Linked DNA regions of Homo sapiens: all the other regions are linked to region 1. Evidence: fine-mapped expression QTL. A gene starts in region 1. Each other region holds a variant in brackets. All regions are shown on one strand. Distances are from middle to middle.

Region 1 (10,206 bases):
ATGGGACTAATAGACACTGGGAACTCCGAAAAGGAGGAGGAAGGGAAGAGGGAAAGGGTGGAAACACTACCTATTGGGTAAGATGTTCACTACTTGGGCGATGCTATCATTAGAAGCCCAAACCTCAGCATCATGCAATATACTCATCTAAAAAACCTGCACACATACCCCCTAAATCTAAAATAAGAAAAAGGCGTATAACTGAGAGAAATATAGGCAAAAGTCATGAGTAAGAAACCGTAGGGGAAAAAATGTTGAAATGATCAATACATCTATGAAAAGATGAAGAATCACATCAATAATTATAGAAATAAAATTAAACAGGATATGTTTACCTATCTGATTGTCAAAGACTAACAACATTGATGCCACACAGTATAGGCTCAGCTGTTCTGGAAAAGGTATTTTAAAATGTAATTGCTAGGAATTTGTCAGTGGCTATAAAATTGTTTCAATGTGTATCTCCTTTGGCCTGGGATTTTCATATCTATGAATTTATCCTCGGAATCATTTAAGAACATAAAAATATGTTCAAGAATTTGTTGTGGCATTGTTTAATAGAAAAAATGGGGAACCCTATTTATCGATAATTTGGTTAAATAATGAATCTAGAAAACTTCAGGTTTGGTTTGGGTAAAAAAAATTATAGAGCATTCATACAATGTTGTATTATACAGCCGCTATAAAGAATGAGGTAGGCCAGGCACAGTGGCTCAGGCCTGTAATCTCAGCACTTTGGGAGGCTGAGACAGTAGGTTTGCTTGAGCCCAAGAGTTCAAAACCAGCCTGGGCAACATGACAAAACCCTATGAAAAATAATATTAATAATAAATAAAGATTTAAAAATGTGTATATAAAAGAAGAATAAGGTAGAGCTATACAGATGAATTGGCATAGAAAGATATTCAAGATTTATTAAGAGAAAAAAGCAAATTGCAGGAGTTCGAGACCAGCCTGGCCAACATGGTGAAACTCCGTCTCTACTAAAAATATTAAAAAAAATAGCTGGGCGTGGTGGTGAGTTCCTGTAATCCCAGCTACTCGGGAGGCTGAGGCAGAAGAATTGCTTGAACCCAGGAGACGGAGGTTGCAGTGAGCCGACATGGTGCCACTGCACTCCAGCCTGGGCGACAGAGTGAGACTGTGTCTCAAACAAACAAACAAACAAAAAACAAAAAAACAAAACTGGCTGGGCACAGTGGCTCACACCTGCAAATTCCAGCACTTTGGGAGGAGGCAGAGGCAGGTGGATCACTTGAGTCCAAGAGTTTGAGACTAGCCTGGGTGACATAGTGAAACCCTGTCTCTACTAAAAGTACAAAAATTAGCTGGGCATGGTGGCTCATGCCTGTAGTCCCAGATACTTGGGAGGCTAAGAAGGGAGGATCACTTGAGCCCAGGGGGTTGAGACTGTGGTGAGCCGAGACCACGCCACTGCACTCCAGTCTGGGTGACAGAGTGAGACCCTGTCCCCTCCGCCAAAAAAAAAAAAAAAAAAAAAACCAACCCAATACTTATTGAATGCTTATATGTGTCAGGCTCTGGACTAAACATTTTATATGCATTAAATCATTTGCCAAAAAAAAAAGAGAAAAAAATAAAAAAATAAATGTGGCTTTTGTTGCAGAAGAAAAAAAATCATTGCTCCTTCCCATGGTTCTTGAGAAATGTTCTCTTATTATCCTCATTTAATGCTAAGGAAGTTGAATTCCACAATAGCTAAGCAACTTGCTCAAGGTCACATAGCTAGAAATGGATAGAACTGGGATTTAAACCCAGGCCATTTGACTCTGAAGTCTACATACCTAACCCCTCTCTTCTGCAGCTTCTCAGGATTTGCTGATAGTATACAGTAGTCCCTTTCATCTATGGTTTCAGTTACCCTTGGTCAAGTAGAGTCTGTAAATATTAAATGGAAAATTCCAGAAATATTTCATAGATTTTAAATTTTGCACTATTCTGAGCAGTGTGATGAAATCTCACACCAATCTGCATATCCCCTCCCGGGGCATGAATCATCCCTTTGTCCAGGGTCTCCATTCTGTGGACAACCCCCACCTGTTAGTCGCTTAGTAGCCATCTTGGTTATTAGATTTAAAGGACACACACACACACACAAAAGATTTAAAGGATATAGTGATACAGGGTTCAGTACTATCCATGGTTTCAGGCATCCGCTGGAGGTTTTGGAACATATTTCCTGCAGATAAGGGGGGGACTACTGTATTGTATAAAATTTTATATAGCATATACTGCTTTTGGAAATAAAAAGGTAATACATTTATATACATGTATACATTTACATGTATAGTATATGTACATGTTATATAGAAACAACAACTAGTAAAACTCCATCTCATTCAAAGGACATTATTATTATTTTTTTTATTTGAGGCAGGGTCTCACTGTTTGCCCAGGCTGGAGTACAGTAGCATGACCATGGCTCACTCTAGCCTCGAACTCCCTGGCTCACATGATCCTTCCACTTCAGCCTCCCAAGTAGCTAGGACAACAAGAGCATAGCACCATGCCTGGCTAATTTTTTTTTTTTTTTTTGAGACGGAGTCTTGTTCTGTTGCCCAGGCTGGAATGCAGTGGCATAATCTTGGCTCACTGCAACCTCTGCCTCTCAGGTTCAAGCGATTCTCCTGCCTCAGCCTCCTGAGTAGCTGGGATTACAGGCATGCGCCACCATGCCCAACTAATTTTTGTATTTTTAGTAGAGATGGGGTTTCTCCATGTTGGCCAGGCTGATCTTGAACTCCTGACCTCGGGTGATCCGCCCACCTCAGCCTCCCAAAGTGCTAGGATTACAGGCGTGAGCCACTGCGCCTGGCCGCCTGGCTAATTTTTTGACTTTTTTGTAGAGTCGGGGTCTCATGTTGCCCAGGCTGGCCTCGAATTCTTGGGCTCTAGCTAACCTTCTGCTTCAACCTCCCAAAGTGCTGGGATTATAGGTGTAAGCCACAGTGCCCAGTCGAAAAAAATTTTTAATGGAGAATAGGCTTTTGAAAATTGAGATACTTCAAAAATTGAAATGCTATCCTATGAAAAATTGTCATAGAAATAGAAACTCCAGTACAACCAAGAGGAGACAACTCAGTTTCAACTTTAAAGCGCAAAGATGTACTGCCAGTTTTATGTAAAGAAATTTATATATAAAATGGGAATTGCACAGCATTATTAGGCTCTAAAGACATGTAAGCTAATTTTAGAGTAATGCATATGCATGTTAAAGCAGCAAAACATAATACAAAAAGAGGAAAGCCGATGCTGGTGATGTTGGTGGTAAATGGACAAGCATTACTGGAAGCCCCCAAATTGTTCAGAATTCCTGACAGTATGTGACAAAACTGTAAAAAGAACTAGTTTGAGCAAATCACAATTCTCTACATCTAGCACAATGTTTGTCACACACAGTAGGAATGCAAATATTTGATGAAGGAGTAGATGGATGGATGAAATTGTTCTTATCCTTTTACCTTTTTTTTCTACTTTGAGGCCTATGCTCTGAGGAATTAATCCAAAAGAATAGTATTTTGGCCAGGTGCAGTGGCTCATGCCTGTAATCCCAGCACTTTGGAAGGCCAAGGCAGATGGATCATGAGGTCAGGAGATCGAGACCATCCTGGCCAACATGGTGAAACCCCGTCTCTACTAAAATACAAAAAATTAGCCAGGCGTGCTGGCGTGCGCCTGTAGTCCCAGCTACTTGGGAGGCTGAGGCAGGGGAATCCCTTGAACCCTGGAGGCGGAGGTTGCAGTGAGCAGAGATTGTGCCATTGCACTCCAGCCTGGCGACAGAGAGAGACTCCATCTCAAAAAAAAAATAGTATTTTATATAAATACATTCATTGCTGTGCTATTAATAATAGTAAAAAAATGGAACATTACGAATGCCAACAATAGGAAAACACCTAGATCAGGAATGCTATGTCCACATCGTGAACTCTGTTTAAACAAGAAAAAAAAAGTGTGCATAAAACAAGTCTTACTCTCTGTGCCTGGAGAAAATGGCAGAATAAGTGGTCCAGTTCAGGGTCACTTGGTGTCTGGTTGACATTTGTCAATTATTTTGGTTAAGTGGAGAACGGAGAGTGCAGCACGCACCACATGGAACACTGAAACCCTCCTGGCCACTGAGAGCTGGGGAGCGAGAGTGAAGAAGAAGCCTGGCATTGCTTTTTAAATGAAAGTCAACCAAAGAACATCAAAACTAAAGTTTCCTTACATTCTTGGTCAAGAGGTGCTGAGAGCTTTTGGCTCTTCTTCTGGCTGGACTGGATACTGCAAAGACAGAGAGAAAGAAATGGTTTTAGACAACATCAGCGAGGCTGACATAGCTACAGTAACAACACTGAGAAGGTTTGAATCTGTGGCGAGGCAGGGGCATAGAGGAGGGGACGGGAAAAAGAGACAGGGTCGTTGCGATTGAAGATGTTACTTGGCTTGAGTACAAAGTTCATAGCTGCATTACTCACAAGAGCTGAAGTTTGGGAACAACCCAAATGTCCACCAACAGATGAATGAATAAACAAAATATGGTGTCTGTATGTGATGGAATATTACTCAGCCTTGAAAAGGAATGGAATTCTGATACATGCCACACATGGATGAACCTTGAAAACATGGTACTAAGTGAAATAAGCCGGACACAAAATGTCACATAGTCTACAATTCCTCTTAATATGGGGTTCCTAGAGTAGTCAAATTCATAGAGACAGAAAAACAAACAAACAAAAGGACAAAAAACCAAATTTGTAGGACAAAAAGTAGAATGGTGGTTACTGGTGGCTGGAAGAGTGGGGGAATGAGTTAGTGTTCAACGGATTCAGAGTTTTAGTTTGGGATAATGAAGAAGTGCTAGGATGGATGGGGGTGATGGTTGCACAACAATGTGAATAGACTTAATGCCACTGACCTGTACACTTAAAAATAGTTTTTAAAATGGTACATTTTGTTATGCATATTTTGCCACAATTATAAAAAAGCTTAAAGAAATTAACCATTAAACATGTTACTTGGTTGGGAAAAGGTTTTACAGCAACTTCACAAGATAGCTACTCTTGTACCACAAGGAAGTGGCCATGAATGAAAATGGGAAGGGAAAAAAGATAAGATTAAATATTTATCTTTGACTGATCATGTTGATTATTCTAAATACAAAATAAAATTGGAAATCACTTTTTAAGTGATGTATTTAATGGTGCTTACTACATGCCAGCTACTGTTCTAGATGCTTTATATATTTACTCATTTATTCCCCATATGATCCTGGAAGATAAGTTGTTTCTCCCATTTACAGCAGTGGAAACTCAGGCCCAGAGAGGTTAAGTAGCTTGCCCAAGGTCACACAGTGCAGAAGTGGCAGCAGTCTCTTAACCACTTCGTTTTGACTTTTTCTTCCTTTAAAAATTTTGTAAATGGAAGTAAATGATAGAAAATAAACACATGTAACATTTTCATATTTCCTTCTACTTTGTTTTCTTCTCATATACAAGAAATACAAAATCAGAGGCAATGTTTTGGTTCTCTTTCTACCCTTCCCTAATTCTCCTTCCCTACCTTCCCAAGACTACTGAGATCACTAATTTTATCTGTATCTTTCTGGTCTATGTTTTTGTATTTTTCTCTAGATACATATCCATAAACAATATATAGTATTGGTTTATATTTTCAAATTTACAGAAATGCTATCTTACATATATAATTTTTCAGCCTGCTTATTTGGCACTCAGCATTATGCTTAGATCTACCTATGTTCACAGGCATACATCTAGTTTATTCCTGTTGACATTGTATAGTATTCCACAGCATGACAGCACCACATTTTAACCATTCCCCTCTTCATGGACACTCAGGTTATTTTCAGTTGTGCCTTCTTAGAATCAATGCCACCGTGAACATCCAGGGGTAAGAGGAGTTCCACCCAAAAGCGAAACTGCTGATTCCGAGGGTCAACTTGGACTTTCAGAGTTTCCAGAGGGAATTCCAACTCCTGCACGTGGGCAGCAGACTCCCAGCTCTTTTCCCTCTCTCTGGATCTGGCAGTAAATGTCTAAAGCTTAATTTATGTCCTGCAGGCTGTCTCTTTGTGGCCAAACGGAATCTCTCCCTGCCCCACTGTGCAATGGCCCTGTCAGCGGCTGACACAGGGGAAGAAAGGAATTGTTTGAATGTGGGCTCACAACACCAGCAAACACCCAGCCTACTTCATTCAAGGCTGACAATGAGACCAGGGGCTAAGCCTGAGTCATGGAGGTGGATGGGAGGGGGCAAGACAGGAGCGCAGGCAGAGAACAGAGGCGGCAGGAGAGGGGGCCATGCTTAGGAGAGGCTGAGGGGACTGACCAGGAACCAGACACTTGGAGTCATCAGAACCCTCACACAAAGCCCTTAACACCGTTCACTGAGGACCACAAGAGCTTATAAAGTCAAGACTCTCGTGTCGCATTCTCTGGCAGCATTAGTTCCGGGTTAAGTTTGCAAGGTGGCCCTGGGTTCTGTGGAGAAGCCAGCCCAGGGTCAGGGCGCTCTCTGACGGCTTCACTGGACTTCAAGCAGCCACCGGGAGTATTTCTCCGCACTTTGCATGGCACAGTTAGAAATCATACTTTTAAGCCAGCTGTTCTCATTTCAGAACCCACTTGCTCACTGGAAAAAATGAAAGTCTCTATCTAGCTACCCTGGGATTTTGTTTTCACCTGTGTGCATAGCAATGGCTTGCTGTCACTTCCATTGGTGTACTGGACTGTTGGTACTGAATTAAATGAGACAGGGAGTATTTAGCTGCTCTCGCCTTCCCCTTGATGGATTGTTTCTCAGTGATTGATGTTTATCCTTGTGCCTCTTTCCCCCCTCCAAAAAATCAAATACCATCAAAACCGAGAGTCCATCAGACCCCAGAGACCTGAGGATAAACCGTAGTAAGGCAGCACGTGACTGTCCTTCCCCTCCTGCCTAAGATGCCACGTTAAGGAAACAGTCAAGGGCAATTTCACTCACCCTTGGAAGGAATCACGGTGGTGAAAACTTCTATGTTCTCGTCACTGCAGCTGTAAATCTGATGCATCATTTCAGCCTCCTCTTCCCGAAGTGCCTGGGAACTGGAGGCCTCTGTCTCTGGACCCCTAGTCGCGAGGCATCCTAATCCAGTCTGGCTCAGGGATCATTGTGCGGGTCCACAAAAGACAGGCTGGTGCTATGAGCTCATCTCGTTCCAGTCTTCACTGCAACATTTTCTAAACCCATCTGTCCTTTTTTTTTTTTTTTTTTTTAAATGAATCCTATTATTGCAAACCTTTGATTGAGCCTGGAGGCTTCAATCCCCTCCCAGCTAGGATGTATTTAACATTTTTATTTTGCGGTGTCTGCCGCAGTGAATTTGGAAGCCTTTTGTGAGGTGACGACGAAGTGAAATCGCCTACTCTGTTAGCGCCAAGCTTGGCTGGAGAATTTCCACCAAAAAGGAAACGTGAATTTTGGTACCAGCAATTCCCTTTCTCATTTCAGAAATGAAGGGGCTTTTTTTTTTTTCTCCCCTCCAGGAGAACGGGATATTCAGTAATTTGTCATGTGCTAACTTGGCTCTCTTAGAAGTTTCTATTTTAAACAAAAGGACTGTTTCTCCAGTGTTTTCCCCTCATGCCATTACATGACAAGGCTGACATTTCTCAAGGGTCCTGTGTTTGGTACCTCCGCGTATAACCCTTAGGTGCTCACAGAGACATGGCAACAGGCAGTGCCCCATGTTCAAGGAGCAAATTATAGAAAGTTATATTTGTATTACCCTATATATCCTAATATATTATATAAACCCTATTATGCTACATATACAGGTTACAGATTATATACTGTCCCGTATATCATATTTATTATATATGTATGTATATCATATGTATATATGTATGTGTATATATATATATCATATATATTTGTGTATGTATATATATCATATATATTTGTATATATGATATATGTATATATAGCATATGTATATATTTGTATTACCCTATATATATTTGTATTACCCTATATATCCTAATACATTTATCCTATATATTTATTATCTTATAAATCCTATTATGCTACATATAGAGGTCACAGGTTATATACTGTTCCATATATCATATATATCATGTGTATATAATATCATATATATCATGTGTATATATCATATATATCATGTGTATATATATCATATATATCATGTGTTTATATGATATCATATATATCATCTGTATATATGATATCGTATATGTGATACATGTACAATGATCCCTGAGCCGGACTGGATTAGGATGCCTCGAGACTAGGGGTCCAGAGACAGAGGCCTCCAGTTCCCAGGCACTTTGGGAAGAGGAGGCTGAAATGATGCATCAGATTTACAGCTGCAGTGACGAGAACATAGAAGTTTTCACCACCGTGATTCCTTCCAAGGGTGAGTGAAATTGTCCTTGACTGTTTCCTTAACGTGGCGTCTTAGGCAGGAGGGGAAGGACAGTCACGTGCTGCCTTACTACGGTTTATCCTCAGGTCTCTGGGGTCTGATGGACTCTTGGTTTTGATGGTATTTGATTTTTTTGGAGGGGGGAAAGAGGCACAAGGATAAACATCAATCACTGAGAAACAATCCATCAGAGGGAAGGCGAGAGCAGCTAAATACTCCCTGTCTCATTTAATTCAGTACCAACAGTCCAGTACACCAATGGAAGTGACAGCAAGCCATTGCTACAGACACAGGTGAAAACAAAATCTCAGGGCAGCTAGATATACGATATCATATGCATATGATATCCTATGTATGCCCTGTATTTTATATATTCTCTATGTATATACACACAAATAAGGTTATGGTTGAAACATATGTATCATGCCAAACCCACTGCATTTTATTACACTGTTACAGCTTCATTTCTTCATACTAATACTGATGGTGATGAAATAATAATAATGAGAGTTGCCACTTATTAAATGCTTGCTATAAGTTAGGTAGTCTGATATATAATTTCATTTAATATCTACGAATACCCAATAAGACTAGCTATTATATTTGCCATCTTATAGGTGAGAAAACTGAGGCATAAAGCCACTGAGTAACTCTTGTGAGATTAAAATATCTAGTTTGTGGTAGAATTAGGATTTAATCCCTAGTTTGACTCCAAAGTCAAATGTACTTAACCGGGCCAGCCTCAGTGGCTCACGCCTATAATCCCAATATTTTGAGAGGCCAAGGCAGGAGGATCACTTGAGCTCAGGAGTTTGAGAGCAGCCTGGGCCACGTGACGAAACCCCATCTCTACCAAAAATACAAAAAATTAGCCGGGCGTGGTGGTGTGTGCCTGTGGTCCCAGCTACTCGGGAGGCTGGGGTGGGAGGATTGCTTGAGCTCAGGAGGCAGAGGTTGCAAAGAGCCAAGATTGCCCCACAGCACTCCAGCCTGGGCGACAGAGACAGACCCCATCTCAAAAAGAAAAAGTACTTAACCAGTAAATTTTACTCTATTCTTTATCTCCTGTCAACCCAAATAACAGAGAGAAGCTCTCTAAAAATATGTAGTTTAATTGGGAATTGCAGGACACAGATGCTATGACAAATCTTAGGCACATCCAGGGAGGCTAAGGTAAGGGGAAGTTTTAAAGGCAAAAGAGTACATATAGATTGTTTTGAAACAAACAGAACATTGGTTACAAGGGTTTATGACAGGAGTTGTTGTCAGTTCTTTAGTGGAGACAGTGTGTCAGGCAAGTGTTCTTGTACAAGCCGCTAGCTGTCTTTGTGTGACTCATGTAGCAAACTATGGTTTGATAACATTTCCTGTGATAGTTCCTTTTATCAGGCAAATCATGCCTGAGAGCCTCCCCCTACCTCCATGACCTCCTGGCTCTATTTTGTTAAGGCTGACATAAGTGACCCAATTTTGATTCTGACAACTTTCCCACTGCAAAGCCTTCCATTACTTTGAACTTGAGTGGACCTGATCCATATGTCTTAGACCTGGAGTTGGCATCCATTGATATCTCTATAGTAAACAAATTGAGGCATTTACTCATCAGGTAGTCGTCAATATTATATACCTCTTTCTTTGAGAATTGCACCCAGTCACAGAGGATGGCTCTGGGAAGCCATGTTTATTCTCCTTGAACTTGTCCTCTTGCCACCTTTGTCTGGACCACAGTGGACATCTAACCCAAACTACTGCCTTGT
Region 2 (10,206 bases), 100 kb after region 1:
AAGAGACAGAGTGGATTGCAGAGGGTAGGGTGTGCAGGAAAGGTAAAGCTTCCAGAAAACAGAACACTTCACAGTGTTCAAAAGTACAGGAATTACAGAAAAGAAGAGTGAGCATGAAGAGTAAAGAATGTGCAGGAGAAAGAGAAAGAAAACTTACATAAATAGCATATAATAAAAACTCTAAATAACAGTGGCTCAACCACACAATTATTTATTCTCCCACATAAAAGAAATCCATAGGAAGGAGCGAAGTCTTGGATGGAGGCTTCATGATTCTGTCCCATCATCCTCAGCGCATACCTTCTATCCTCAAAATCACTTCCCAGGAGACAAAGGAAAGGCAAAAGATGCGCATCGCCTCACTGAGGCATCGTCCAGAACGTGCCACAACAGTTCTCACTGAGTAGAGCTCAGTCACATGGCCACACCTGGCTGCAAAGGAATATAAGAAAAGTAGTCTTTTCATCTGAGGCATTGCCACTACAAATATCTCTGCCTTAGGAATGTATGAATAAATTACAGTTCATTTAGAAGAGGACCCGAGATTGAAACACAGTGTAAAAGAGCTGAACCAAGACCCTGAATTAATCATACCAGGGAGGAAGGATTGATGGTTAAAATTTTACTATCTGCATAATTTATCATTAGCTCTTTCTATAAAAATAAATTTTACTGTGTATATTTTAGATATATGTATACAAATGTGTACACATATGTATATATATACACATATATATGGTAGAATAAATTAACATATTCATTATCTGATATACTTATGCATTTTTCCCCCTGTGGCAAGAGCAGCTATCATCTACTCATTTAGCAAAACTCCTGAATACAATACACTACTATTAACTACAGTCGTCATCTTATACACTGGATCTTTTGGCTTGTTCATCTTACTTGCTACTTTGTATCCTGTGACCTACATCTCCCCATTTCCTCTCTCATTAGTTTTTTATATTTAACCGACTGTTTAATATGTATATTTATAATTTCATCCCTAGTGTGGCTGTTTTTCAGTATCTTTTTTGTTTCAAGCCTCAGTATAAGAACATCAATCATGTATTATCTAAAATAGAAATACCCAAATCTGGTCCTCTGACTGATGGGAAACAAGTATATGGGTGTTGAGTGGTGATTAGCAGGGAGGGAGATTTCATAGTTACAAAATTGATGACTCCCAGAAGGGACAGTTAGAGTTAAAAATGAAAGAATGCTTTGGTAGTTATCTGATGAAAGCTTCTGATATGGAACATTGGCTTTATGAAACTAAGACAATTTTGTTGTATCTTTCAGACCAAATTTTGAGAATCTTTTTTTTTTTTTTGAGACGGAGTTTCATTCTCATCACCCTGGCTGGAGTGCAATGGCATGATCTTGGCTCACTGCAACCTCTGCCTCCTGGGTTCAAGCGATTCTCCTGTCTCAGCCTCCCAAGTAGCTGGGATAACAGTCTCCCACCACCATGCCCAGCTAATTTTCGTATTTTTAGTAGAGATGAGATTTCACCATGTTGGCCAGGCTGGTCTTGAATTCCTGACCTCAGGTGATCCGCCCACCTTGACCTCCCAAAGTGCTGGGATTATAGGCATGAGCCACAGCACCCAGCCAAGAATCTTTTAAAAGAGGATCAGGAGTCATTTAAGTTTTTAAAAAATATTTGTATTTTTTAAAAAATGTATTATTATTTTTATTTCCATAGGTTATTGGGGAAAAGGTAGTGTTTGTTACATGAGTAAGTTCTTTGGTGGTGATTTGTGAGATTTTGATGCACCCATCACCCAAGCAGTATGCACTGCACCCAATTTGTGGTCTTTTATCCCTCACCCTCTGAGTCCCCCAAATCCACATGTTTTTCTTATGCCTTTGCATCTTCATAGCTTAGCTCCCACATGTGAGTGAGAACATATGCTGTTTGGTTTTCCATTCTTAAGTTACTTCACTTAAAATAATAGTCTCTAATCTCATCCAGGTTGCTGTGAATGCCATTAATTCATTCTTTTTTATGGCTGAGTAGTATTCCATTTGAGTAGTATTCCACAGTTACTACTGAGTAGTATTCCACAGTTTCTTTAGCCACTCATTGATTGATGGGTATTTGGGTTAGTTCCACGTTTTTGCAATTGCAAATTGTGCTGCTACAAACATGTGTGTGCAAATATCTTTTTCATATAATGACTTCATTTCCTCTGGGTAGATACCCAGTAGTGGGACTGCTGGATCAAATGGTAGTTTTACTTTTAGTTCTTTAAGGAATCTCCACACTGTTTTCCATAATGGTTGTACTAGTTTACATTCCAGCAGCAGTGTAAAAGTGTTCCCTGTTCACCACATCCATGCCAACATCGATTTTTTTTTTATTTTGGCCATTCTTACAGCCAGCTGATCTTCAACAAAGCAAACAAAAACATAAAGTGGGGAAACGACACCCTATTCAACAAATGGTGCTGGGATAATTGACAAGCCACATGTAGGAGAATGAAACTGGATCCTTATCTCTCACCTTATATAAAAATCAACTCAAGATGGATCGATGACTTAAATCTAAGACCTGAAACTATAAAAATTCTAGAAGACAACATTGGAAAAGCCCTTCTAGACATCGGCTTAGGCAAGGATTTCATGATCAAGAACCCAAAAGCAAATTTAATAAAAACAAAAACAAATAGCTGGGACTTAATTAAACTAAAGAGCTTTTGCACTGCAAAAGGAACAGTCTGCAGAGTAGACAGACAACCCACAGAGTGGGAGAAAGTCTTCACAATCTGTATATCTGACAAAGGACTAATATCCAGAATCTACAACAAACTCAAACAAATTAGCAAGAAAAAACAAACAATCCCATCAAAAAGTGGGCTTAAGGACATGAATAGACAATTCTCAAAGGAGGGCATACAAATGGCCAACAAACATATGAAAAAATGCTCAACATCACTAATGATCAGGGAAATGCAAATATTTGTATTTTAAACAAAAAGGAATAAATGCACAGTGAAAAGTAAGTCTTTTTCTACCCCAGGCCATCAAATCCCTAAACCTCTAGGCTTCTAGTGCCTCTTCCCAGAGCAACCTGTCTTACTAGTTTCTTGTATAAGGAATCATATAAAGCTGGTGAACCACATGAAAATGAATGCTTGCTTCTTATTATCCACAGTATGAACTTTGATTTGCAGGGATTAACAGGAAGAGCAAGCACAAATAGGACCATCTCTAGAAAACCCCTCCTTGATTATCCCAGGCAGATGTTCTCAGTGCCTCCCAAGCTTCTTCATGGCTTAAAAAAATTGTACTGAAATCCATAACATAAAATTTACTATTTTAATTGTTTTTAAAATGTACAGTTTAGTGGCATTACGTATGTTCTCATTGCATAGCCACCACCACCATCCATTTCCAGAACGTTTTCATCATCTGAAACAGAAATCCTTTACTCATGAAACAATAACTCCATATTCCCCCTCCCTCATAGCCCCTGGTAATGATTCTTCTACTTTATGTCTCTATAAATGTGACTATTCTAGGGATCTCATGTAAGTGGAATAATACAATATTTGTCCTTTTGGGCCTAGCTTAATTAACTTGGCATAATGTCCACAAGGTTCATCTATGTTGTAACGTGTCAGAATTTCCTTCTGGCTGAATTAAATTTATTGTTATGTATACACCACATTTTGTTGATCCATTCATCTATCAATGGATATTTGAATTGTTTCCAACTTTTGGCTATTGTGAATAAAGCTGCTATGAACACTGGTGTACAAGTATCTGTTAGAGTTTCCGCTTTAAATTCTTTTGTTTCCTTTGCGTCTTTTTATGGCATACTATTATTTATTGTAGTTGATGAGTGGATGCACACATGCTTTAAATTCCCTATTAAATTCTAACCCCTTGAGTGCAGGGCCCTTGATTGTTTTTTTCACTCCCACAGTCATACATTTGTCCATTCAACAATTCTTTATTGAGCATTGCTGAGTACGAGGCACTATGCTAGACTTCGGGGATACAGGGTGTAATGATGAACGTGAGCTGTATCCTCTAGCAGCATACGTCTAGTGAGGTACATTTTTATTTATAATTGTATCTGATACAATGTCTTGCACATTGTAAATATTCAACAAATGTTTGTTGACTTGTTGGTTGACTTATTGACTTCATGTATCTTCAGAGGTTCCTGAAAGTGTCATATCAATTATTGGATAGCAGTACAAATTTTTTGAACAAATGTAACAAATGTTAGAGTATGACTTTCTTGTTCCTTACTTTATTTATAGCAGATAGGATGGTGTCTATCATACAGTACGGGCTCAATAGTTTAAATAGTTTTAAAATGAAAGGTGATTACATAATTTGCCATAGAGAATTCTGATAAGGGCCAGACATTAATGCTCATATATTATGAATGGAAAAACTGAGGCATTTAAGAAAATCCAGAAAAGTAGTGACCAAGTCAGGAATAAACCTGGGTTTATTGGCCTGCAGCCTAATGCCTTCTGCCCTCCATCACACCAGTGCGTAAAATTAGAACTGATATCCCACCTTTCTGCGAAAGATGTGAACTTTAATTAGGTGTAATCACACACAGTATGGAGAAGGTTTAAGGCCTTTAAATTTCCTAAAAATGAAAATGAATCAGATTCTAAAATAAGCTTGTTAAATGCTATTCTTAAATAAAAAAGATAGTAGCATATGATGGTGAATTGCTTTTGCTGCTGTGAGAGGTGAAGTGTTGCTGTGCCACCTGCTTGGGAAGACCAAGCTGTGTCTAATCTTATACATCATTTTTCTGCTCATTCAGCTCAACCTCATTCCTGACTGTCCATGAATTATTGAGGCTTTTTGTATCTTTTGAGCAATCTGATTTAGAAATATTTAATCCTATGTTATATGAGCTAGAGTTTAAATCACTTTATTTTATTAAGAATTCTGACTAAATTTTTCATGAAGGAGAAGGTTGAGGTTTTAATTATTTATAAGTTTTTGGATTATTTGTGAATCTGAAGGCCAAGTTTTTCTTATAAATTTAAGATATTTCAGTTTCAAAAACTATCCTGTATTTGAGATACGTAAACTCATTTAATAAACCTAAGTACATTGGGAAAGTGAGACAGTGGGGAAAAAAAGAAAAAAGAAAAAACAAAACCTAAGTACAGCACAGATTGGAAACCCCAGGAGAGCATAGACTGAATTCACACTCAAGCTTAGCTGCTCAAATCCTGAAACTGTCATTGGTCCACTGAAGGTACAGGAGTCAGAGGACCTTAATTCATAAGGCAAAGGATTGTATATATAGATATAAGGAGTTTGACATTTTAAGAAGAGTGAATTGAGCAGAAATTCTCCAGAAGAACTTAAAGAGAACAGAGTGGACTCTTCCCCATTCTACCGGTTCTGGCCCCAAAGTTATAAAGGGCTTGGATACAAAGGTCAGACTTGTTATCTTGTTGATGCTCAGATTTTCTAAATAATGAAATGTGTTTTTGCCTTTATGACAACAGGAAATGCTCAGAAGCCTTCAGACTTGGCATAATTTGTCATAAGAATGTAGCTATTCCATTGATTTTGTTGTTGTCAAATTTGTGCATTCTCCATTGTACCTTTTTTTAGAGTCAGGAGGAGGAAGGTAACCTGGCCAAGTGGTGGCCCATGGTGTTACTTCTTTGTTACCAGCCTTATGTGATTTGGGTGAAATAGGTGTAAGTGCGCATTGTGGTGGGAAGGGTCAGAGCAATCAGCAGGGGTCATATGGTGAAATCAAAGACAGGAAAATGGGTTTTGGCCAAAAGTTGTATTGGTGACTGACTCAGAATGTGTTGACTCCCACTCTGTGTTCTGGAGAATGACTGGAGCTCTCCCTCCAGTGGGCCATACTTTCTCCCTATCCAACCATATGTAATGACAAAAAACCCTCCCTCTTAATAAGCTCTCCCTTGATCCTGCCAGGCAACTGTCAGTGCCTGTGAGAGTAAAGATCAGCAATTCTTGCTGTTTTGGTCACTTACATGTGTTCTTTGGCAGAGAGTTTGGTGTTTTGCAATACAGATGGAGAGAGGCAGTCAGAGGAGGAACTGAGGTTGGCGTCAGGAGAAAGATGCAGGCGGACAAATCTAAGGTCAAATATTCTCTCCCGCATCTAAGACAGTGAACAAAAAGCAGACACCTTTGGTAGTTCTGGCCTCTAATAATATAAACAACTTATTTGCCAAGGTACTATGCCAAATGCTTTATAAGTAGCACCTCATTAAATTCTTACAATATGGCCGGGCGTGGTGGCTCACGCCTGTAATCCCAGCATTTTAGGAGGCTGAGGCAGGCGGATCGCTTGAGCTCAGGAGTTCAAGACCAGCTTGGTCAACATGGCGAGACCTTGATTCTACAAAAAATCCAAAATTAGCCTGGCGTGGTGTTGCCTGCCTGTAGTCCCAGCTACTTGGGAGGCTGAGGTGGGAGGATCACTTGAGCCCAGGAGGTTGAGGCTGCACTCCAGCCTGGGTGGCAGAGTAAGATCCTGTAGCCCCCCAAACAAAAAAAAAATTTAAAAAAATTCTTACAATACCCCATGAAGTAGGCATTATTCTTTATCTCCATGTTACAGATAAGAAAACCAAGATCTATGCTGTCTCAAATTCACAGAAAAAGAAAGTAAAAATATTTTTTAAAAAAAGAAAACCAAGATCAACAAAGAGTAAGTAACTTTTCTAAGAATATGGAGCAAGAAAGGGGAGAAACCCAGGCTGCAGGCCCTGAACACTCCAGGCTGGTCCACTGTGATGGGCCCTGGTTCAGCAGGCTCCATACTGCCCTCAGGAGCAGCACTAAATAAATCGCTCCCTTTTTCAAATACATGAAGCCAGCCATCACATCAGATGATGCCCTGCCTGAGGGCTCCCCTTGGCCTAACTCCTATTAGTAATACCCATCTTAAATACTCCTCTTTTCCAGTAATGGCACCTTCTCTCACAATGAGCTTCAGTATTCATCAGAATGCTGCTTCTATCCTCCTGTACAATCTTCCGGTTAACAATGCTAGTCTAGACTATCCTTCTAGGAGAAGGGAGGGGAAGGAGGCAGGCGGAGGCTGTGGAGTCCCATGAAAGCTCCTGGAACACATGTACCACATGAGGAAGATGCTGCCATCTGGACAACCTCATTAGCTTTCCAGCTGCCTCTGTGTGTATCTTTCTATGGACAGCAACTATGCAAATGTGATCTTTGTTTTAATGAGTGCGTCAGGTGTATTTTGCTGTAACATTATCTATGATTCATTGTGGTATTAAAGTAATAACTTGGGCCAGACAGCTCATGCCTGTAATCCCAG[C/T]ACTTTGGAAGAGAGAGGCAGGTGGATCACTTGAGGTCAGGAGTTTGAGACCAGCCTGGCCAACGTGGTGAAACCCCGTCTCTACTAAAAATACAAAAATTAGCCAGACGTTGTAGTGCACACCTGTAATCCCAGGACCAAGCAGAGGGGTGGAATGGGGACCATTATAACACCACTGTTCAGCAACGAAGCTGCTGCCTTGTAAAACAGGCTGAATGAATGCAGGGGCTGCAGTAGAGGGGAGTCCTGTGTTGAGGAAGTAGGAGGAGATTAGATGGCACCAGAGATCCCTTCCAAATTGCAGCATGTATAGTTCTAAAAATAAAGTGCTGCTGGTATGATCTCCCTTCTTTATCAGTGGGTTGATACACTTCAACTCCCAACCCCACCCCAACCTCTCCTTGGCTCCTTAGAGGCTCTCTCACTTCTCCAAACAGTTTGCACAGTGGCTACAGATGGGCCCTCATGCATGACACAGCCGTCTCCGAAAGGCTGATAGATCAATCATGGCTACTGATCTCTTAGCTCTGTGTGGGCCAATACATCCTGAACAGGGGGATGTCTTCTATCTGGTAAGTTCCACAAGAGTTAAGACCATGCCCATCTTGCTCACCACTGAATTTCCAGCACCAGTCCCAGAGCCTGATATGTAGTTGAATGACTAGAAAGTGATGAATTAATGAATGAATGAGTAATAAGCACAGTTGCCAAAAAAGACTTGGGAGAGGAAGGTGGCATTATCACCAGGATCATTTTATCCTATTCAAGGAGCTGTTTGAACCAAGATCTAATACTTTCAATAACCGTAGTCATCTCCCATTTGGCCTAGATTGTGAACTGGGAGAGAGTAAGCATGCTGTCATACCCAGGAAAGGCTCCGGTGAGTCCCTCCTTAGGTTCGAACCAATCTACAGACATTTTCTTTGAGCTGTGGCACCAAGCATGGTCTCTTGGACATAGATTGTGCTCTACAAATGTCTGTGATGGTGACTAAGTACCCCAGGTCCTTGCAGGAAGGTAGTGTCCTGAATTCTGTGGTTTCCTAGCACAGAATCTAAGAACATAGTATAATAAAGCTCTAAGATTTGTTGGGCTTGTGAATCATGAAGGCTTACCCTATATTCAACTGAAGTCTCCACCCAGGGGTGCTGCCCCTGAGATCCTGAGATGTATAAATGCACTGGAGCTTTTTTTTTTTTTTTTTTTTAAAGTGAAGTAGTTTGAGTCTTTATCAGAATCCTGCTCAGAATGCAATCTTTCTTTTTGAGACATGATTCATTCGAATGTTATTTCTGTGACTCCCCTTTATCTGAGATTCTTTTAGGGTAAAATGCTATATGCAAATTTGGGTTAATTTTAAAAATTTTAAAAACTTCATTCTAATCTTGCTTTTGACTTCATTACTCCTCTGAAAAAGTTAAGATTATCAGTGACCTCCAGTCACTTAATTCATTGTTGAACTCTCCAAAAAAAAAACTTTTTTTTTCTCCGTCCAAAAAAAATACTTTTCCCCTTAGCTTCTGTAACACTACATTTTGGTTTTCCTCTCACTTATGTGGCCTTTCCCTTCTCAGTTCCCTTTAAAGCTCGTGCTTCTATACTCAGTGGTTAATTGATGGAGCTCCTGAGAGCTTGGCTCCAGGGCCTCTTCTTTCCTAACTCCATACTTGCTCCATACCAGTGGCCTCAGTTTTCTTCCATATGCCGATGACTGTTAAATTAACTCCAGCTCAGATTCCTTCTCTAAACTCCAGACCCATTTATTGCCTTGACATGACCATTTGAACATTTTAGAAGCACCTCTAGCTCAATTTGTCTAAAATTGAACCTGCAATCTTTCTCCTAAAACTCTCCTAAACTGGTTCTTTCCCAGTGTTTTCTATTCACACCAATGGCATGAGCAACCTGCCAGTTACTTGGGCCATCAACTTTGGAGGCATTTTTTTTTTTTTTTTTTTTTTTGAGACGGTGTCTCGCTGTCACCCAGGCTGGATGGAGTGCAGTGGCGCGATCTTGGCTCACTGCAAGCTCCGCCTCCTGGGTTCACGCCATTCTCCTGCCTCAGCCTCCGGAGTAGCTGGGACTACAGGTGCCCGCTACCACGCCTGGCTAATTTTTTGTAATTTTAGTAGAGAGGTGGTTTCACCGTGTTAGCCAGGATAGTCTTGATCTCCTGACCTCGTGATCTGCCTGCCTCCAACTGAGGTTGGAGTCAGAAGAAAGATGAAGGCAGGCAAATCTAGGGCCAAGTACTCTCTCCCGCATTTAAGACATTTAAGGCCCGGTATTCACATCCCGGCCTCCCAAAGTGCTGGGATTACAGGCATGAGCCACCGCGCCCAGCGTGGAGGCATTATTGACAAATCCCTCCCCATACCCTCCATTGCTAAGTCCTGCTGATTTTACCACCTGCTATGGTTTGAATGATGGTTGGTTGTCCCCACCCCAAATTCATGTGGAAACTTAATTCCCAATGGAAGACTGTTAAGAGGTGTGGCTTTAAGGAGATGATTGAATCATGAGGGCTCTGCCCACATGAACAGAATTAGATGCCCTTATGAAAGGACTTGACAGAAGGAGTTTGCCTCTCTCTTGCCCTTCCATCCCTTCCACCCTGTGAGGACACAACATTCCTCCCCTGTGGAGGATACAGCAACAAGGCACCAACTTGGAAGTGGAGACCAGGCCATTGCCATACACTGAATCTGCTGGCGCCTAGATCTTGGACTCTCAGCTTCCAGAAATTGAGAAATTTCTGTTTTTTATGAACCACCCAGACTCAGGTATTTTGTTATCACAGCACAAATGGACGAAGATGCCACCTAAATAAAATCCACCCTCTTATTTTCATCTTCATTGCCATCACCCTAGCCTAAGCACTTACTATT
Region 3 (10,206 bases), 24 kb after region 1:
ACAAATATTACTGAGTGCCTCTAATATTGGTAAGGCATTTTACCACCTGGGGTTGCTGCTTCTTCAGGAATCAAGCTATGAATATGATTGTTTCCCCTGATGGACTGTGTGCTCCTTAAGGGATGGGACTGAGTCTTATTCATCTTTGTAGCTGCAGAACCTGGCATAGGAGTTGACACTAGGTGGTTGTCAAGAGCAAGATCTTTGTCTAGGTCCAAATCACTTGCTACCACTTGCTAGTAGTGTGACCATAGTCAAGTTATACAGCCTCTCTAAGGTTTGGTATAATCATTTGTAAAACATTAGGGGTTAGGGCTTCAACTTATGAATTTTGGGAGGACACAAACATGCAGTCCATAACAGGGACTGAGCAAATCTCTATGGTAACAGCATAGCTATGTTTTGAGCATTAAATAACACAAACATGTAAAGCAGCTATAGTGCCTGGCACATAGGGGTTCAATCATATTATGAGTATTAGGTTTACAATAAATGTAATTGAACTGATGCCCTAGGACCTAGTCTGACAATGGTCCTTTGTATATAAATTTGGGCAAGACATTTTACCTCTTGCAGTCTCTGTTTTTAAAAAGTTTATCTGTCAAACAGAAATACCTGCACGGGTACCTAACAGAATTATAATGAAAATGGAAAAGATTGCTCTGTTTCTTGATTACAAAAATAACCTAAATCCAGTAAATTATCTAAGCATAAATTCACAGAGTAAGAAAAGCTACCATGCTACTATAACACCTTTAAAAGATGACACAAATTCCTTAACTTGATAAAGAGAATCTATAAAAGACCTATAGCTAACATCATACTCAGTGTGAAAGTCTGAATATTTTCCCCCTAGGATAGGGGACAGGACAAGGATATCTGCTCTCACCACTCTTATTCAACATAGTAGTAGAATAGTATGCCAGGGCAAAAATACCAGGAAAGGAAATAAAAGGCATATTTATTGGATACGAAGAAATAAAACTGTCCCTATTCACAGGTGGATAATTATAGAAAATCATAAGAAATCCACAATGAAACTTCTAGGATTAATAAGTAGTGCAACAAGTTTGCAGGATACAAGATCAACATATAAAAATCAATCACATTTCTGTATACTAACAATGAACATGTGAAAACCAAAATTCAAAGCACAATACCATTTACAATTGCTCCAAAGAAAATGAAATACTTAGATAGAAATGTAACAGAACGTGTAGAGGATCTGTGTCCTGAAAATTTTTAAATGTTGATTAACTAAATCAAAGAAGACCTAAATAAATGCAGAGATATACTGGATTTCTGGATTGGAAGAATCAACATACTAAAAATGTCAGCTGTCACCAAATTATCAATAGGATTAATGCAGTTACTATAAAATCTCAGCAAGAATATTTTGTCAACATAGATAAGGTTATCCTAAAATTTATATTGAAATGTGCAGGACTAGAATAGCTACAACAGTTTTGAAAAAGAAGGATAGGCCAGGCTACCTGGGAGGCTGAGGCAGGAGAATCACTTGAACTCAGGAGGTGGAGGTTGCAATGAGCCAAGATCATGCCATTGCACTCCAGCCCGGGCAACAACAGTGAAACTCCGTCTCAAAAAAGAAAAAAAAAAATAGAAAAGAAAAAAAGGAAAAGAAGGGTAAAGGAGAGGAATCACTCTACCAATGTTAAGGATTACTATTTAGCTGTAGTAATCAAAACAGGGTGGTATTGGTGGAGACAGACACATGGAACACTGAAATGAAACAGGGAACCTAGAAGCAGACCCACACAAATATGCCCAACTGATTTTTGACAAAGGCATAAAAACAATTTAATGGAGGAAAGAGTATCTTTTCAACAAATGAACACATGATACTAGAGATAGCCTAGGTGTGCTCATGTGTGCATGCATACACACACACCCCCCTAAGTCTCACACCTTATACAAAAATTAACTCAAAGTAGATCACAGACTTACATGTGAAACTAAAATTTTTAGGAAAACACTCGGGAGAAAACCTTAGAGATTTATGGGTAGGCAGAGTTCTTTGACTTGACATCAAATGCATGATGAATAAAAAGGAAAAGGTGATAAACTGAACTTCATCAAATTAAGAACCTTTCGTCTGTGAAAGACCCTGTAAGAGAATAAAAAGACAAGCCACAGACTGAGAGAAAAGATTCACAAACCACATATCTAAGAAAAAACTTGTATTTAGAATATATAAAGCATCATCAAAATTCGACAGTAAAAAAACAAAACAAAACAATCCAATTAGAAGATAGGCAAAAGACATGAACAGACATTTCAACAAAAAGGAGATACAGATAGCAAATCAGCATGTGAAAAGATGTTCAGCATCACATGCCATTAGAGAAATACAAATTAAAACCACAATGAAGCCGAGCGCAGTGGCTCCTGCCTGTAATCCCAGCACTTTCAGGGGCTGAGGCGGGGGGATCCCTTGAGGCCAGGAGTTTGTGACCAGCCTGGCCAACATGGTGAAACTCTGTCTCTACTAAAAATGCAAAAATTAACTGGGCGTAGAGGCAACACGCCTGTAATTTCAGCTACTGGGGAGGCTGAGGCAGGAGAATCACTTGAACCCGGGAGGCAGAGGTTGTGGTGAGCCAAGATCGTGTCATTGCACTCCAGCCTGGGAGACAGAGTGAAACCCTGTCCAAAAAAAAAAAAAAAAAACTGCACACACACACACACACACACACACACTGAGAACTCACTACACACCTACCAGCAACACTAAAATAAAATAAAATAAAATAAAACATAGTGGTTTGTTTGACAAACATTCTTTTCTTTTCTCATATGCAATACATGGTACGAAGTTCACCCTGGTCCCAGGTAAATGTTGCCAAAGCCATCATGGGACCTATGTGCACAGTCGCAAAGGTTTGAGAGGTTTCTGATTAGAGAAGCAACTTAGACCCTTGGAAGGGATCTTGGTGGGTGTAGTTCCTTGGTCTCACTCACCTCCCTTGCAGTGCAGCAAATCATTTCACTCACAGGCCTGAGCAGTTTTAGAACATCCTTGTAGAAAATAATATGTTACTCCCTTGGGTCTTTTTTCTCGGCCAGCAAAACTGAAAAACACAGACCTACAGGCTTAGGGGGCCACAGAGGGCTCTAGAAGAAAAAAAAAGTAAGTAAAAAAGAGATTTGGGGTCTTAAAGTTTCACCGAAGAGGCAAGGATATAACACCAAATTTTCCTAAGTTTATCTGAAAATTGTAATCCCTGTGAACCATTAAGCTGTACTGACATTAAAAAAAAAACCACTATTGACTTGCAGGTTGGCACAAATAGTCTAGTCTGGTCCATACTTGCAAATGAACTTTGTTTCATTTCTTGTTGCTTTGCACTAGTATTTATTTTGAAGAGAAGATTGAATGAGAGGGGAAGCAATATTTAAGGCAATTCTGAGTTATATGTAACTTGACACTGTGAACCAAGAGTCATAAAAATGTCTACATCAGGCCAGGTGTGGTGACTCATGCCTGTAATTCCAGCACTTTGGGAGGCCAAGGTGGGAGGATCATTTGAGGCCAGGAGTTTGAGATCAGCTTGGGCAACATAGCGAGACCCCATCTCTACAAAAAAATTTTAAAAATTAGTCAGGTGTGATGGTGCTTGCATATACTCCCAGCTGCTGGGGAGGCTGAGGCACAGGAGAATCTTTTGAGCCCATGAGTTTGAGGTTACAGTGAGCTATGATCTTGTACTGCACTTCATTGTGGGTGACAGAATGAGACCTTATCTCTTAAAAAAAGAAAAAGGAAAAAAAATCTATATTGTAATGTTAAAATTGACTTTAGGGGAACCTAACCTACCAAATTAATTTAGAATGTGAAAGATGCCATATAAACATTATTCATCTATTCATTGCTAAGTTATTGGTAGGAATAAAAATTTGGAAGCAATTTGATGACCTATAATAAGAATAAATTATTAAATTCTTATTTAATAAACTATTGCATACATTTGCATATGATTATGAAGATTATGCAACAACATAGAAAATCCTTAAAATGTCATGTGTTAAGAGATTACACCACCCAAATGGAAAAGATGGAAAGGAAATATGTCAAATGTTAACAGCTGTGTTTGGGTAATAGGATGATTAGTTGTTTTTTTCTTCCTTTTCTCTCATGATTATTTTAATCAGTTTCCAATTTTATAAATTGGAAAATCAATTTAAAGCACCCAACTGAAAAAGACAAAAACTTAAAGCCAGAAAGAATGAAGTGGGGTTACTTTGAAGTTAGCTGTTGTGCGCATAGCTTCATGAGGCATTTCAGAGGGGACGAAATCTCAAAACAGTTATTGCAATTTGTTAGGCGATTGCATTTATTCTGAGAGTGATTGGAGTGGTTGGAAAAACAGTAGAATAATAGCACGAGAAACTAGACCCTCCCACCCCCAGCTGCCAGTAATTCAACCTAGGGCTTTAAGAACCAATTTCTGTCCATTCAAAGTGCGCTTGGTCCTGGAGACTGCCTCCCCCAGGCCATTGTGATGGTGATGGCCTGGTCCCCTCAACAGCTCCCGGAGGACCAGGCACTTACTGGCAGAGCCCGGGCAGCTGTCTGGAGTGGTGTTGCGGGTCGTCAGAGACTCGCAGCCTGTGCAACGATGACCTGGAGGTGAACAGTCCCCTTTCTCATACCTACTCCCCAGAGGCAACAGCCCCCTCATTAGGGTACAGTTTCTAATCCAAACAACCATTAATCTTTCTCAGGGTTAAAAGGCCAGGAAAGCAATTTTTGCGCGTTCGCGCTATTTTGATACTGTACTTGTCTGTATTTTACAAGAGCAGACTTACTTCACTGACCACTTGAAAACACCCCACAGCTGTGTCCACAGCTACTCGAACAATGCCATAGAGAGGGACAGGAGTGCAAAACGAGCCAGCTATTTATTGTGGCACTCAACAATAAATAGAAACATGACCTATTTGGAACAAATCAGTATTCTGTATCAAAAAATAAATTAGGGATATGCATGTATTTTAAGTGAAAATGCCACCGTATGATGATAGTTTTATGAACATAGTATTTTCCAAACTCTTGAATACCACTCTATTAAATGTCCTTGCCTTGGTAGGTATTTTAATCCACATAAATGGAGCTGCGACTCTTAAGAATTTTTCTTAAAGGACATCTATAGAAAAATAGGATACAGAATCAGAAAAAATACACTTAATTATTGTCTCTGAAACATGAAATGTTTGATTTACAGAAATGGGCCTAATCTAGCTTATCCTCTTTTAATAGCTAGTAAGTCACAAAACTCACCTTTTCCATAATCTCTAATTGTAAGGGCCAGAATGATGGGTATCCAGATAAAAACACCAAGTCTTCCTAAATCTGTTTCTTCATGCTTGACCTTTAAATTCTTCCTCTACAGAGTCATCATCAATATGAATACCAAACACTCCTCTTGGTGAGTCACATTCAGACGTCTGGCTACTGTTAGCAAAGGCACTGAACATTTGAGAGAGATGGGGGGAGAATGCATATTTGTATCTCAAATTATTTTACATCGAATTTTCCCAATTCGAAAATCTCACATTAAGGACCAGGTAATACATAAAACCTAGTCATAGCATTTTCTTTCTTTCTTTTCTTTTCTTTTCTTTTTTTTTTTTTTTGAGACAGAGTTTTGCTCTGTTGCCTAGGATAGAGTGCAGTGATGTGGTCTCAGCTCACTGCAACCTCCACCCTCCAGGTTCAAGTGATTCTCATGCCTCAGCCTCCTGAGTAGCTAGGACTACAGGTATGCACCACTACGCCCAGCTAATTTTTGTATTTTTTGTAGATATGGTGTTTCACCATGCCATGTTGCCCAGGCTGGTCTCAAAACTCCTGGACT[T/C]AAGCAATCCTCCTGCCTCAGCCTCCACTGTGCCCGGCCTCATAGCATTTTCAAGCTGGAAGAGGCCTTAGTTGAATGAACTAAGACTCAGACAAAACTGAAACAAAATCCAGGGCCCTTGAACCCTAGCCTAATGCTCTTCTAATAATGTCATATCACATTGCCTAATATATTATAAGTGTTCTCAAACTTACCTAGACTGCTTCTGAGGTGGGGGTGGTGAGGGAAAAATATATGTGTATGTGTATACATATAAGTTTTTGCCATGCTAAATATATTTTGAGACTCTCATTAACAACTTTTACTGAAGTTTCCTGAAGGATCTCAGATTGGCAGAGTTTAGCTGTTCTCTGCCTCATTCATGCCCAGCTTCTGCCCTCATCTCCAGGATTCTCCTGAAGAGCTAGAAGAAATTTTAGCTAGCTATGATCTGCAAGGTGTAGCTGAAATTCTACTGGCACCATCTTAAGCCTATGTTTGGGGCACTTGGTATAAAAAAATTTGAATGTTCTGTAGAAATTAAAATTACACCTTAATAATACCATTTCTAAGTAAAAAATGTACACATATATAGCTAGTTATACAACATATATTTATGCATACAAAATTACTGGAATAACATATACAAAATTTTTACATAGCTATCTTTTGGATGGTGCAGTATGAACAATGATTTTCTTTTGTGTTTATCTTTGTATTAACAGTTTTTGGTACCGAATATATTTTATGTCTGTAGTTAGAGAAAACCCCCAATAAACATTATTTTAAAATCTCAACAAAATAAAGACCTTTATGGAGATCAAGTGGCCTAGGCAAGTTGAATGGCACAGTAATGCTTTTCTCATCTGTTTGAAAAAAATCCTGAAGTAATTATATTACTCATTTATAAGATTAAAAATTTAATTCAATTTAAAATGTGAGTAAATCTGCAAGTACTCTGAGATCTATACTGCCAAAGCTTGGGCAAGAAAACCTCAGTGGGTTAACTTTTGAAAGGAAAAATGAGCTGTCCAGGTTTCTGTAGCCTGGGAATAAAAGGGAGGAAGAGTATCACACTAGTTGGATTCTACTTGCATGCTGTAATCTGTAACCTACAAAACTGCTTCTTTTCGAATTAATGTATTCAGAGCACCAGAAACATTTTTCCAGAGGGAATAACCATGTAGGATGTTAGTTTTTGCTTTTTGTTTTTGTTTTTGTTTTTTTTTTTTTAAACAAAACAAAACAAAAAAACCAACTTATTCACCAGAGGATTGGTCTCTAATATTTTACCCCTGTGGATTTGTTTTTACCTTTTAAATACGTTACTAGTATTTTTATAAAATAAAACGAATCTGACCTAAAACATTAAAATGACATTTTTCTTTCCTTTCCCTTCTCTTTTATAAATGTTAGAAAAGTAATATATGCTTGTTGTAGCAAATCCAAACAATACAGAAGTTTATAAAATAAAAAATGAGGCTGGGAGTGGTGGCTCATGCCTGTAATCCCAGGACTTTGGGAGGCCAAGGCGAGAGGATCACTGGAGCTCAGGAGTTTGAGACCAGCCTGGGCAACATGGCGACACCCCGTGTCTACAAAAAATACAAAAATAAATAAATAAATAAGTCAGGCATGGTGGTGCATGCCTGTAGTCCCGGCTACTCAGCAGATTGAGATGGGAGGATCACCTGAGCCCGGGAAGTGGAGGCTGCAGCGAGTCATGATTGTACCACTGCACTTCAGCCTGGGCAATAGGAGTGAGACCCTGTCTCAAAAAATAAATAAATAGCTACTCAGGAAGCTGAGGCAGGAGAATCACTTGAACCCAGGAGGTGGAGGTTGCAGTGAGCCGAGAACGTACCACTGTACTCCAGCCTGGGAGACAGGGCAAGACTCCATTTCAAAAAAATAAATAAAAATAAATGAATAAATGAATAAATAAATAAATAAAGTGAACATTTTCTCTTAGTTCTCCACACCCCAAATTCCATTTCTCCAGTAATAACTTTTAAATTTTGATGTGTATCTTTCTTTTGTATGTATATGTAGATATATGTTTATGTATAATTGAAAAAGTAAAAATCAGATCATACTAATATATAATTATTTGGTAGCTTGCTTTCTGCCAACTTCCCAGTATATTATGGACTCATTTCCAAGAGATTTACTTCATCTTTATTAACAGTACCATAGTATTCCACTGTCTAGTATACTATAAGTGATCTATATACCAATAATGAATACTTAAGGTTGTTTCAAATCTTTTATTATTAGAAAAGTGCTGCCAGAAACATCCTTGCCATGCTTCTGTATGTACTGGTGCTAGTGTTTCTATCAGATAAATTTTTAGACATGAAGTGAATTACTAGGCATAGGAAATATAATTTACACTTTTGATAGATACTGAGTTTTTGCTCATTTGCTACATGAAACAGAGGCAGAGTATTCTGTGTGGGGTTTGGGACAGGAACACTGACCCCTGAAGTCGAGCCTGGGGGTCTAACATAGTGGTCATTTGTCCAGCCTGTTTTATGGAAGGAACTGGACTCTGAGCTTTGGGGAATTTCCTGCAAGATAAATGTATATCCCACCTATACTGGTAACAGGTAAGTTATGCGCAAAGATGAAAAGACAAAGCCCTAGCTAGATCAGCTCTTGCTCTCAGCACTACAATGGCCAGCGGTAATTCTTTCAGTTAAAATGACAATTAATACAGTTTCATTGAAGCTTCAAACAGAGCAGCCAGATCCTCTTCTGACTGGGGACAGGGTGCAAGCTTGGTGACCCTTTCCTGAAACAGTAAATGAAAGAAGTTACCCAGGGCTTTGAAAAGGCAGTTTGTAAAAGCTACAAAGTTATGGAAATTAACTTGGTCATAAGAATCAATGACTTGATAAACGCCATATCTTTAAAAACGGTATTTCTTGTATACTTCATATGAGTTGATCCCCATCTCAGAGGTTTATCACATCATACCTCTTTCCCCACAGAGCTTTCGAAAGCCACTGCCCCTTGCCTTACGCCCTGGCAACAGCCTTCTGCCGAAACCAATCTTGGGGAAAACACCCTTATCATGACAAAACTAGGTCAGTCAACCACCTCTGCCAGGTTCTCTGTACACACAGAGCTCTGAGAGAGAACTGGGTCGTCCCCGAAGTCTAAGACCATGTATTTTGCAACTTGGACTTAAGGCATATTCAAAAGGACTTCAGTAGAACATTAATGTTCATGCTATGTGCAACAAGTGACTCCGTTTTTTTCTATTAACTAAGGTTTTATCTCTATGTTCCCAAGCAAATCCAGTGATTTGTTAATTTCTCCAATGATTATTGAGTCAATTCAGCGAAGACATCCAGCACATCCTACTTCTATTTATACTCTGGTCAGTAGCTTCTCGGGGACAGGGGCTAAAATGTACAGCGATGACTCCCCTGGCACCTGCATGAAACTGAGGAATGTCCATTTTGAGGTTCCATTTTCATGGGTCTCTGGGCATGTTTTCTATTGCTGGCATGTGTTTGGGAGTGTAGCTAGTGGAAGGGAAACTTGTGAGGCCAGGGGCTCAGCTGTGTGCACTGCTCTCTGCCCTGCGCCTACCAGAGGGCTTTACATAGTAAGTAGATGCTCAACAGTTATCTGCTGAATTAGTGAAGATGGTGGGGAGGGGGATACTGGAGTCTCAAAGTTCACATATACAAGATAGAACTCTGACTCTCCCACCCCACCGCTCCTACCATTTTCTCATCTCAGAAATGACACCCAGTAGCTCAGGCAAAACCCAGGAGCCACACTTGATTCCCCTTTCCCTTGCTCTGCAAGTTCAACTCATCAGCAGGAGTGTCAGTCCTACTTCCAAAATGAAGCCCCAGTCAGAGCGCTTCTCACCTCCTGTGGTACCACAACCGGAATCCAGGACACTGCTATCACTCGCCTGTCCAGCTTGAGAAGCTTCCTGAAAGGTCTGTTTCCACTTTTGCTCCATTCTTGCCCCCCAGAGGTCATTCTCCCCACAGCAGCCAAAGTGATTTTTTTCCAGTATAAACTGAATCCTACCATTCCTGTGTTTAATGCTCGCAGATAAATGCCTGTGGCAATTACAACAAAACCATGGCCTCTAAGGCTACCCCGATCTGGCTCTGTTTCCTGCCCCAGCTCTAACACCTCACTTAGTCCCACCATCCCTTTTAAGTTCCTTGAATATGCTAACGTTGACCCTGCCTCAGGGCCCTTCCCCTCTGCCTAGAAAGCATTGGCCTATCATCATGCACCTTCCCAACACCCTGGCTGGAGATCTCTCCACACTTTCCCCGTGAGATCACTCTCTATCTCCTTATGCAGGTTTTCC

The links.
Region 2: its variant is fine-mapped to the expression of VXN in whole blood (TOPMed, PIP 0.97).
Region 3: its variant is fine-mapped to the expression of VXN in blood mononuclear cells (TOPMed, PIP above 0.99).

The regions. Positions count from the first base shown.
Region 1 is chr8:66,490,518-66,500,723 of GRCh38, reverse strand. VXN (vexin) reads right to left here and starts at 7,158. Exons shown (of 6, transcript NM_152765.4): 1 at 7,006-7,158; 2 at 4,232-4,287. The coding sequence starts at 7,075.
Region 2 is chr8:66,389,193-66,399,398 of GRCh38, reverse strand. All of the region lies in intron 1 of LOC102724687 (a long non-coding RNA gene), which reads left to right. Among named protein-coding and RNA genes, the nearest start is that of RRS1-DT, 35 kb to the left of the region's middle. The variant C/T (reference allele first, on the strand shown) is at 7,319.
Region 3 is chr8:66,466,715-66,476,920 of GRCh38, reverse strand. ADHFE1 (alcohol dehydrogenase iron containing 1) reads right to left here. Exons shown (of 14, transcript NM_144650.3): 14 at 8,014-8,652. The coding sequence ends at 8,569. Among named protein-coding and RNA genes, the nearest start is that of VXN, 22 kb to the left of the region's middle. The variant T/C (reference allele first, on the strand shown) is at 5,880.